Regions from separate parts of the Homo sapiens genome. Here region 2 is linked to region 1. The links come from fine-mapping of genetic effects on gene expression. A gene starts in region 1. The other region holds a variant in brackets. All regions are shown on one strand. Distances are from middle to middle. Region 1 holds the start of FAM216B (family with sequence similarity 216 member B). Region 2 has its middle 7.0 kb from the start of LINC00428.

Region 1 (5,385 bases):
ATGGGAGAAAATTTTCGCAACCTACTCATCTGACAAAGGGCTAATATCCAGAATCTACGATGAACTCAAACAAATTTACAAGAAAAAAACAAACAACCCCATCAAAAAGTGGGCGAAGGACATGAACAGACACTTCTCAAAAGAAGACATTTATGCAGCCAAAAAACACATGAAAAAATGCTCATCATCACTGGCCATCAGAGAAATGCAAATCTTTTGATATCTTATCTCTTTCTTCTATAGATTTTATTTGAGATTATAGGGTTGAAACTAAATCTCTGGATATTCCCTTCTCAAGTCCACTTTAGACTTTTTTCCCGAATTGTTTGAAATCTGTTTTTCCAAAGTCTTAGCACGTATCTGACCACATCCAGTTTTTCTTTTGCCGATAATCACTGCTTCTAAGTGTCCCAAGTAGTTTTCACTCACTAAAAGTGGTTCTTATAATCCAAACTAAGACTGACTCTAAATATCCCTATTTTTGTGACCAGTGGCTCCTATAGGTTTGGTGTATATGACAGCTTTTGTTTTGGAATCTCAGAAAAGTAGGGGTTTTCTATGAAGAGGTCAAAGAAAAAACAAGATAATTAGGAATAACTAACTCCTCTTCCCCCACCAAAAAATTTGAGCTCAAGGGACTACATAGCTCAATGGGAAATGAAATTCAACCAAGACTCTAGAAGACTAAGTAGAGTCCAGGGGATAAACAGCAGTAGAGTGGGGAGAGGGACACTGCCTTCTCTTCCTTAAGGAGCATGGAGGTCCTCTGAGGGCTTGGATAGTCAAGCAGCATGTCTGTGCCTGGCAGAGACAACCTCACAGACATCTCTGCAGCTAAGAGGATCCTGGCAAAAGGATGTGAGCAGAGCATTTCCTTCCGGGTTCATAGTTTTTCGGGAAAGTGTGTACCTCCATGATGTACAGTGGCACTCTCCCTCTAGCAGGTGGGTTTCTTTGAATTAGAGTTTAACTTCATCTTGGATTCCAATCAGGAGTCCCTCTTCCTCACTTGGTATCACTCATGAGGTCACATTTACCCTGATATTCCATGAAAACACTTTATCACCCACCTTCTAAACAGCCAATGTCTTAAGCAGTGAGTCTCATTGCTGTACCAATATTTTAACTGTGAAATAGTACAACTTTTCTACTAATAGTTGACATTGTATTCCCTATAGTAATTAGATTATGGGTGTTTCTTTCCCATTTTTTTTGTAATCAGTTTAAATCCTTTTTGAAATGTTAAACTAGTCTTTGGGAAAACATTTTTTGTCCCAAACTTAGGATATGCATTACTCCCTCATTCTTATATTTTAAAATATGTCTACAAATTTAGATCTCATTCTTTGATACCATCTACATAGCTAGTTTTATCTTATTTCCTCTTTTCTTATAAATTGACAACTTTCAGTGATGTTAGGTAAACATTGACTGTATGTCTAAGTCCTTCATCCTCCTGCCTGACTTCATAGGTCCCAAAGGTACCTCTTAGATTTGTGTTTGTGTTAGAGAGTGTCCACCATCTGTCGGCCTCATGTTGATTCTTCTATACCCTTCTGTTTATCAGAGTAGTAGGAAGACTGCAAAATACATTTCCCAAAATCCCTTGCTAGCTGGCATCCAATGGAGGGCAGGACATGAATGAAGGCTGGAGGGAAGAAGCCATTTTTTAAAAATACTTTCTGCTTGCACCTGTGGCAGTGCCAGCAGCAGCAGCCACATGGACAGCAACAGTGGTGACAGCAACAGCAAGATTAGCAGTTTGGGCAAGAACATAGAAGCAAGGGTGCCTGGTGAGCACAGGTTCCTGAGGCGCTGCTCAGGCAGCAGTTCTCCAAAGGAAGCAGCCTCTATGGCACAGTGTCCATGGGCTGTGGGTAAAATCATTTTCCCTATTGTCCTCCAGCTCTATGTGCAATCACAGTTTAGTGCAATTGCCAGTCCTTGGATAACCTAACCCTTCTTGTTTTACTCCTCTAACCCATTTCTATATTTTCATAACAGATTCCTTACATTAAATGCCCTCTGTCAAACACAGATCTGTTACTGTTCTCCTGATTGAGTAGCGTCCAAGGCAAGCTGGTAGGAATTTCAGCATGTGTGTGCAACATCAGCAGATGCAGTGCACCCAGAATGAATTTCATCATATCCTGGAAAAACGTTTGAGGAAGACTCGATTGACAATGTCAACTCTGCACACCACTGTTCTTTATCTCTTGGTAAAGAATCATCAACCTCTCAGATCCAGTGAAAGATTTTATGTTATTTACTGGCATTTAAAGACACTTGTTTGTGCTGTGCTTATTTCCCAGGAGGTCTGCATTCAAATTACTGGGGAAAAAATGCAAGACTTTTGCATCTGTTGAGCCCTTTCTTCTTTAAGGCATATGATTCATCACTCTCATCTCCCTGCTTTTTTCTTCCCCTTAGTCTCCTAAGAATTTTGAATGTATTTTCTTTTGATATTTCTTCTTCCCTTTTCTTTAGGAACTCTTCATCTTTGCAGATAAGCTGGCATTCAGAAGGAGGACACTTGAGAAAGAAAGGAAGCCAGTAGAATAATGCTATCACAGAAGAAAGGATGAGGTCAGTGTGGGCTCTAGTCTTACGCCACAGGTTAATTATCATCATATGTAGCCTCTAATTAAGATAAAATATGGAGAATATCTTATTCCCCCACAAAATGAAAGGGAACTTAGCTTAAACTATGGAATAATTTCATAGGTTACCACAGGCAAATTCATGCCCATACCTCTATATTCAGGAACTCTTCCTTCATCATCCTGAGCAATGAGGAAGGGGACTACTGACTCCAAATTTTGGAAATATTTATGTCATGGCCCATTGCCCTGATGGATTTGTTGACCTTTAATATTTAGAATCTCTGCCTCTATGCATGTTACCCCCGATATCTGCATGTAACACAGATATGGTAGATTTAGAAGATGACACTTGATTAGACACAAAATGTGGAAGAAAAAATATCAAACTGTGTAGCTGAATGTTACCCAGAAGTGAAGAAAGGCATGCAGCCAGATTTCCCCAGCTCTTTGTTTCATCACATGATGTTGCTTGGATATCAGCTTATCAACAGACTTCCACCACCACCACCAGCATATAAACAGAGTCCGCGTAAGAAAACTACACTGAATAGGAATGGCAGCTTTTAAAAGTGGGGGAACTACAGTATAGGGTAAGTTCTTTTTAGGCAAATCTGTCTTTTTGTTTCAGATATATTATTTTGTAGATGTTTCTCTCCCTGAATTCCATGAGTATTTTAATCAAATTTTATCAGGTATAGGCCACTTGAATAGGTAAGATAAATTTATTCAGCAGTAGCCCCAGAAAAGCACACATGAATTGTTGCCATAAGAAAGAGCATCAGTCATTTCTTTATGCTATTTGAGGAGAGAAGAAATCTTTCCAGCTTGAAGCATATTTATTCTCTGTTCTACAGATCTGGAAAATGGGAGGAGGGATATTGAAATGATTTGAGTACAGGATAGAGCGTAGGTGTCAATCACAGAGAATATTACAGGAGTATATCTTGGTTGGTATGGTTTCTGGAGTGCACATTAAAGGAAAGCAGTACTGACTAAAATATTTACAGTTTAATTTAGACATTTATATAGCAGAAACAGTACACACAGAGATGTTGACTAATGTTTTCCTAATAAATTTCTCTTCTGGAAGAATGGAACCTTCGATGTGTGAACTCAAATCAGTCTCCACATGTATTACAATACTCCTTAAGCATGTGTATGTTTATGAACCTATGAGTGTGCATGTGTTTGTGTGCATGAACATGCGTGAAGGTCGGGTAGAGAGAGAAGAAACTGGCATAAAGTGAGAGCATTCTATATTCACGATTTCAGTGAATCAAACACCCAGTGAGGTAGGCATTGTAACTGCTGTCTTAAGGATGAGAGGGCTGAGGCTTACAGAAGGAAAGAAACTCAAGTCTTTCTAGTTCTAAAGGCCATACAGCCTCTATTACAGTTTATTTTCTTCAGTTAATATACGTGCAGGTATTAATAATAATCTACGTTTAGCAGATTGTTACTATGTTTGATTTGCTGTGGTCTTACTTTCTATCATTCAGTAATTCACACTGCTAACAAAGACAAAGGAGTAAGCAGAGGGGAAAATACTCTGGGTTTGCACTTTGTGATTTGGCAACCTATTCCAATATGTCTATTCTTGCTGGATTGTTAAATTCATATTATTATACACACTTCAGACTCTAAACCCTAAATCACCAGGAAAGGAGACTTAATCATAGCAAATGTGACTCTATTATTCTGTATCTTTCTCAGGCAAGTGGAAACATGACAAGTTTAATAGTTTTATAGTACAATGCTATAAAATTGCACATCTAAATTGCAAGAAGTGGAGAATGACGTAAAGGCATACTACACTGCCACTAAAAATCATATTTTTAAGGAATATTTAATGATCTGAGAAAGTGCACAAAATGTATAAATTATGATCTCCCTTTTCTAAAATTACACACAATGTACACAGAAAAAAAAAATAAATAAATAAAAGGAAAGTGAAGCTCAGCATGGTGCCTCATACCTGTAATCCCAGCACTTTGGGAGCCTGAGGTGCAGGATAACTTGAGCCCAGGAGTTTGAGACCAGCCCAGGGAACATAGGGAGATCTTATCTCTACTAACAATTTAAAAAATAATTGGGTGTGGGGTGTGTACCTGTAGTCCCAGCTACTCAGGAGGCTGAGGTGGGAGGATGGCTTGAGCCCAGGAGTTCAAGACTGCGGTGAGCTATAGTCGCACCACTGTGCTCCAGCCTGGATGATAGAGTGAGACTCTGTCTCAAAAAAACATATAAATAAATAAACAAATAAAAGGAAATCAACCAAATGCTAACAATAATTATGGATAGTTAGATGCAAGTTGAGTATGCCTTATCCAAAATGCTTGGGACCAGAAGTGTTTTGAATTCCAGATTTTTTTTTTTTGATTCTGGAAAATTTACATTATCTTTGCCAGTTGAGCCTCCCAAATTCAAAAATCCAAAATCCAATATGCTCCAATGAACATATCCTTTAAGCATCTTGTGGGCACTAAAAAAGTTTTGGATTTGGAGCTTTTCAGATTTTGGGCTTTTAGATTTGGGATGCTCAACTTGTATGAGTAATCTTATTTTCTTCTTCAATTTTTAAATTTTTCCAAATCTTCCAAAACAATATATATTACTTTTAGAATCAGATATGAAAATCAATATTATTTAAAATTATCAAAAAATTACTACTATAAAAATAGTATGCTCTACAACACACCTGTTCCAAACAGTTAGAAAGACAAGGGCTCTGAATTATTCCTTAACTTCACAAATAATTAATAATTATTTTTATATATAAAGG
Region 2 (5,385 bases), 99 kb after region 1:
AACAGTATGAATCATTACAAGAGAGTAGGAGAAAGGAGCAGGAGAAGAGAGAAAAAGGAAGAACAAGAAAAAAAATCTCTGCCTCTGGTTGTTGATGGTATCAAATGAGATGCTGATTATGCAGACTTCCCCTAATGTACTCTGCTGTCATGTATATTTCTTTGATCAAATATCTTCCACTTCCTAGAATACCAGCTCCACTCCTCCCCTAAAGCAATGAGCTATTTTCAAAACCATTCATCTTTCAAGATTCAGCTCAAACATCAAGTCCTCAACTGCCCCAGGATAACTTACCTCTCTCTCCTTTAAACTCCCACTGTTCTTTACACAGCTCATCACACTCGATTGTTTACACATGGCTTACTGCACTTACCACCCCCCCCCCGCCCCGCCTTCTAATGTGCTGCCTGCATGATTTCCTTAGATATTATTCTTACTGTTCAGTGTCTATCTGTCCTAGAATATGAGCTCATGAGGGCAGCTTCTGTCTTATTTAATGCTATATCTCTGGTGCCTGGAAGAGTGCCTGGCACATAGTGAGCACTCCTGGGAAAATATAATTAAAAACGAAATGTCCTCCTAACCCAGAAAAGCTTTCTACAAAGGTAAAAGGAAAACTATTTTATTATTAAATAAGCATTAAACCAGAAAGTGATGCACATTACAGGCAATCTGCTAAAGAAATGGCAAAGACCAGAAAGAACTCTCACTCTTTTATAGCTAAGGGGATACAACCCATTACCATTAGTTAGGCTTTGCAATTTGGAGTCAGACAACAACTGAAGTTACACCCCTCTCCTCTTAGGAAACCGGAAGCTAAAGCCTTAGCTTCCTTGATGATTACATCAAGGAAGAGAGGACGTCCAGGTCCTTGAAGAAACACTCCAGATTGTGAGGTAGCCCAGAGGCTTATTTAGCCACTAAAAAGATTCACATACATAGAAAAGGACAGGGAAAACTTTTTTTTTTTTTTTTTTTGAGACAGTCTCGCTCTGCCGCCCAGGCTGGAGGTGCAGTGGTGCAATCGCCGGCTCACTGTAAGTTCCGCCTCCTGGGTTCACGCCATTCTCCTGCCTCAGCCTCCCCAGTAGCTGGGACTACAGGCGCCCACCACCACTCCCAGCTAATTTTTTTTATTTTTTAGTAGAGATGGGGTTTCACCATGTTAGCCAGGATGGTCTCGATCTCCTGACCTCGTGATCCGCCGGCCTTGGCCTCCCAAAGTGCTGGGATTACAGGCGTGAGCCACCGCGCCCGGCCAGGGAAAACATTCTGAAAGAGAAAAAAGGAGTGGAGAAATTTCTTCCCTTATTTTCGACAGGAAGATTTAAGCTCCTCATCTTACATTTTTACTTGCTCTTTCTGCACTTAATCACCACATGTTGAAAAAGTAAAAACTAAAAGATGGTTTTCCCTGTAATTAACTATAAACACCTAAGGGCAAGAGCTATGTGTTATTTTCCTACACAACACCAATATAGTGTGCACTCAACAAATGTTTGTGGAAAGAGGAAGGAAGGAAGGAAAAGAAAGAGAAACAGGAAAGAGAGAAGGAGAAAGAGAGGAAGGAAGGAAGGAAAAAAAGAAAAGGAGAAAGATGATTTTGACAACTGTAAAACAATCTCCACATTAAGGACTAAGCATTAAGGGAAGAGAATCAAATAACAGACAGATAAGCTGGGCCTATCATAATAGTTATTGACTCTTCATAAACCATCTCTACATGTACATTTAGTTATGCATTGGGTAATGGTTAAAATAGATACCTAGGGTGCTTTCCAAAACTGGATTCTACAGTTCCTAGGTCACGGACTTGGCTTGTCTCCAGTTGGCCTGCTTTTATAACCACCCAGTGGGTTTTTCTTGTCCACTGCCCAGATAGAGCTAATTTATGAAGGCAGGGGAATTGCAATAGAGAAAGAATTTTACACACATAGAGCCAGCTAAACAGGACACAGGAATTTATTATTACTCAAATTGGTCTCCTCAAAAATTCGAAGGCTAGGGTTTTTCAAGGATAAAGAGACGGGGGCACAGCTAGGCAATGGGTGCTTGCTGCTGATTGGTGGGGGTACAATCATAAAAGTGTGGGAAATGGTCCTCATGCACTGAGTCACTTCTGGGTGGGGTCACAGGAGCAACTAGTGGGTCCAGGTGGAGCCATCAGTGTCAGACATACAAAAAACTTGAAAAGACATCTCAAAAGCCAATCTTAGGTTCTAAAATAGTGATGTTGTCTGCAGGAGTAATTGGGAAGTAGCATATCTTGTGACCTCCGGAATAATGGCTGGCCATCGTTTATGCCTACACCTTAGCAGAATTCAGGCTCCTATCCTCCTACTAGTCTGGTGGTTTCTCATTAGCTTTGCAAAGGTGGTTAAGCTTGCGAGGAGGGTATTATCATTTATTTTTATTTCTTTATTTTTTATGTATTTATTTTTTTTGAGACAGTCTCCATCTGTCGCCCAGGCTGGAGTGCAGTGGCGTGATTTTGGCTCACTGCAACCTCTGCCTTCCGGGTTCACGCCATTCTCCTGCCTCAGCCTCCTGAGTAGCTGGGACTACAGGCGCCCAGCACCACGCCCGGCTAATTTTTGGTATTTTTAGTAGAGTCAGCGTTTCACCGTGTTAGCCAGGATGGTCTCCATCTCCTGACCTCGGGATCCGCCCACCTCGTCCTCCCAAAGTGCTGGGATTACAGGCGTGAGCCACCGTGCCCGGCAATTTAACCTATAAACTAAATGTCTCCCAAAGCTAGGTAGACCCAAGCCAAGGGATAATTAAGGGCAGTTTGAAGGCTAAAGGCAAGATGGGGGTTGGTTAAATCAGATCTCTTTCACTGCCATAATTTTCTCACTGTTACAATTTTTGCAAGGGAGGTTTCACTTTTCTCTCCTCCTCCACCTCCAAAGCTCCCTCCTCTTAAGTAGGGAGAATTCATTCGCACGTTTTTCAGAGCTCTGCACTGTAATTCATTCAGATCCAGACATTTCGGCTCATTTACAGCGGATGCATGCTCTCGCATAATCTCTACACCCATCTTGGGCTTCAATTTTCTCTTAACAATGTTCGTTCTACCCTTTTCAGTCCAAAGATCACTCTCCTTGACAGAGAAGACAGGACTAAATGGGAGGAAAGGAGTTCTGTTTTCTTCATGTCATCCATCAACATCACACCACTGGCCTCAGGCAGCGAGCCTCTTCCTTCCTTATTCTTGCTCTAAATTTAAGAGCCCTCC[A/G]TTATCCTTACTTTCTTTTCTCTAAGCCTCAGCTCACTCTGGTCTTTGGCCCTTCTGATCTGTTACTGGTCCCTGCCTTTCTTCAACACAATCTTTGGCAGCGTGCCTCTTTCCACTTTTTGGCACATCTTTTTAAAATCCGAGTTTCTCAGTGGGAGTGTGCAGCCACCTTGGCTCCGAATGTCTTTTCCTTTTGTCTGCAGCATGAACAACATGTGTGATTGCAAAGATAGAATTATAATTTTGAAAGCTTACCAATTCTTTTGAGTTTCCTCTTGAGAAATAGAATTAAAACAATCTTTTCTTGAATTCATTAAAACCTGCCTTCTCCAATTGTTGAGTACCTGTCTTAGCATTCCAAGCCTCCTCCCTGCTTGGCTAGCACAAACCTTAAAACGACACACGCACTTCCTCAAAAGATTCCTTTATACCATAGAAGTGAAGTGCAGGAGGCAAAAAGATCCAATGGTTTTTTCTGACAATAGTCTCTGTAAAACATCACAAGAAACCAATTAAAGAGGATGGTAGTGAGCCTGAAATAAAAGGGAAAGTTGCTAAAGATATTGTGGTGGTAGAATTGATAATCCCTGCCAATGAATTATGCAGGGATAATTATGAGAAGGAAGGAAGACTGTTGAGGCCTGTAAGTATACATGGCCAGGTGATCTAGAAAATGGTGATAAGGTAGGAAGAAAGAAGGACCAACATTTTTAGTAATAAAGAAAGGAGTTGAGAAAGTATCTTTTCATTTAAAACTAATATAGTATTTCCCTTGCTACTCTCCTACCTTGCATTCCCATTTACCTTTTAAGAGCATTTATCCCATCAGTTTGTCTACAACCTATCCTGTGAGGTAAGGTGGAGATAAGAGATTTGTCCAAGGTTTCAACATTAGTGAATGGCAGAGCTACATTCTCATATCTTCCAGAAATCCCGTGGTTCCCCTTTCTTTTCCAAAATGCTATGGCTCATGGCATTGCTAACCATCTGCAGGGATTAAAGGACAGGCATTGCCTGTAAAGGGGCAAAGCCAGCCCTTTGGTTTGCATCAGCAGCTGCTGTTGGCGGGGTTTAGGTTTATTCATAACTGATTAGCTTAATATGATATCCTTATCCCAAGAATCTTTCTATCCTTGATTATCACACCTGGGGTTGGCCAATTAACTGGGACAAATTCCAAAACATTGAGAGAAGCTCTCTTCCAGGGTGTTTCTCCTCTCCTATATCTTGTCTCCCACTTCCAAGCAACAACCACACTAGTCTCTCTCTCTCTCTCTCTCTCCCTCTCCCTCTCTCTGTGTGTGTGTGTGTGTGTGTGTGTGTGTGTGTGTGTTCCGAGGTGAGCAGGCCTATACAAACCTACTTCCAAAGGCCAGGGAAGGTGAGGAGCTGAAGAAAGAAGCTGACAAGTCCAGATTCTCAGAATGAAATAATAGGGATTTATGAACAGAAGCCATATCTCAAGCAGCTGCGAATGGTGGATCCCTACAGTACACTGTTACCCCACAGACCCAGGGCTTACAAATCATAGGGAATTTGCCTAAGGGGAAGATATATGTGTTTACGATAACATCAAGGTTGTTTTGACCTAAGGGCAGGAATTATTCGTAATTATACACTCTTAACAGTAGATAAAATAGAAATTTTAGAGGCATTTTCGGAACTGGGGTTAATCAGAAGTCAACATGGCCAATTAGTATACAAGATGGAGTTACTCTAGCCTGAACATTCTTCTTCCTCAATGTCCCCCAAACACGTGCTTACCACCATCACTGCACCACTGTGGCTGCTTTAAATGTCCCTGCACTCAATCCTTCACCAGCCACCACCATACTTATTTCTTTCCATCTGTAAAAATTTTCCTCTTTTATCAAATCCATTCATTTACCAAATACTCATTGAATCACTACTATGTGCTAGGCACTGTTCAAGGAACTGGGAATACAGCATTGAACAAAACAATGTCCCCGAGCTCATGGAATTTTATTCTATAGTCTTTGAAACTCTTTATTGACCACATCAAATCTCCCTTCCTCTGAAATACTATAAATTTTGTATATATGGCCACATCACCATCAATGTATTTACACAGGCTAGAAATATGAAACTCATCTTTGATTCATCAGTCTCCATCTATATCTAGTCAT

What was found. PIP is the estimated chance that this variant, and not a neighbour inherited with it, causes the effect.
Region 2: its variant is fine-mapped to the expression of FAM216B in monocytes after R848 (Quach 2016, PIP 0.95).

Annotation. Positions count from the first base shown.
Region 1 is chr13:42,778,472-42,783,856 of GRCh38, forward strand. It overlaps FAM216B (family with sequence similarity 216 member B), which reads left to right and starts at 3,113. Exons shown (of 4, transcript NM_001318932.2): 1 at 3,113-3,193.
Region 2 is chr13:42,877,074-42,882,458 of GRCh38, forward strand. No RefSeq gene overlaps it. Among named protein-coding and RNA genes, the nearest start is that of LINC00428, 7.0 kb to the left of the region's middle. The variant A/G (reference allele first, on the strand shown) is at 3,239.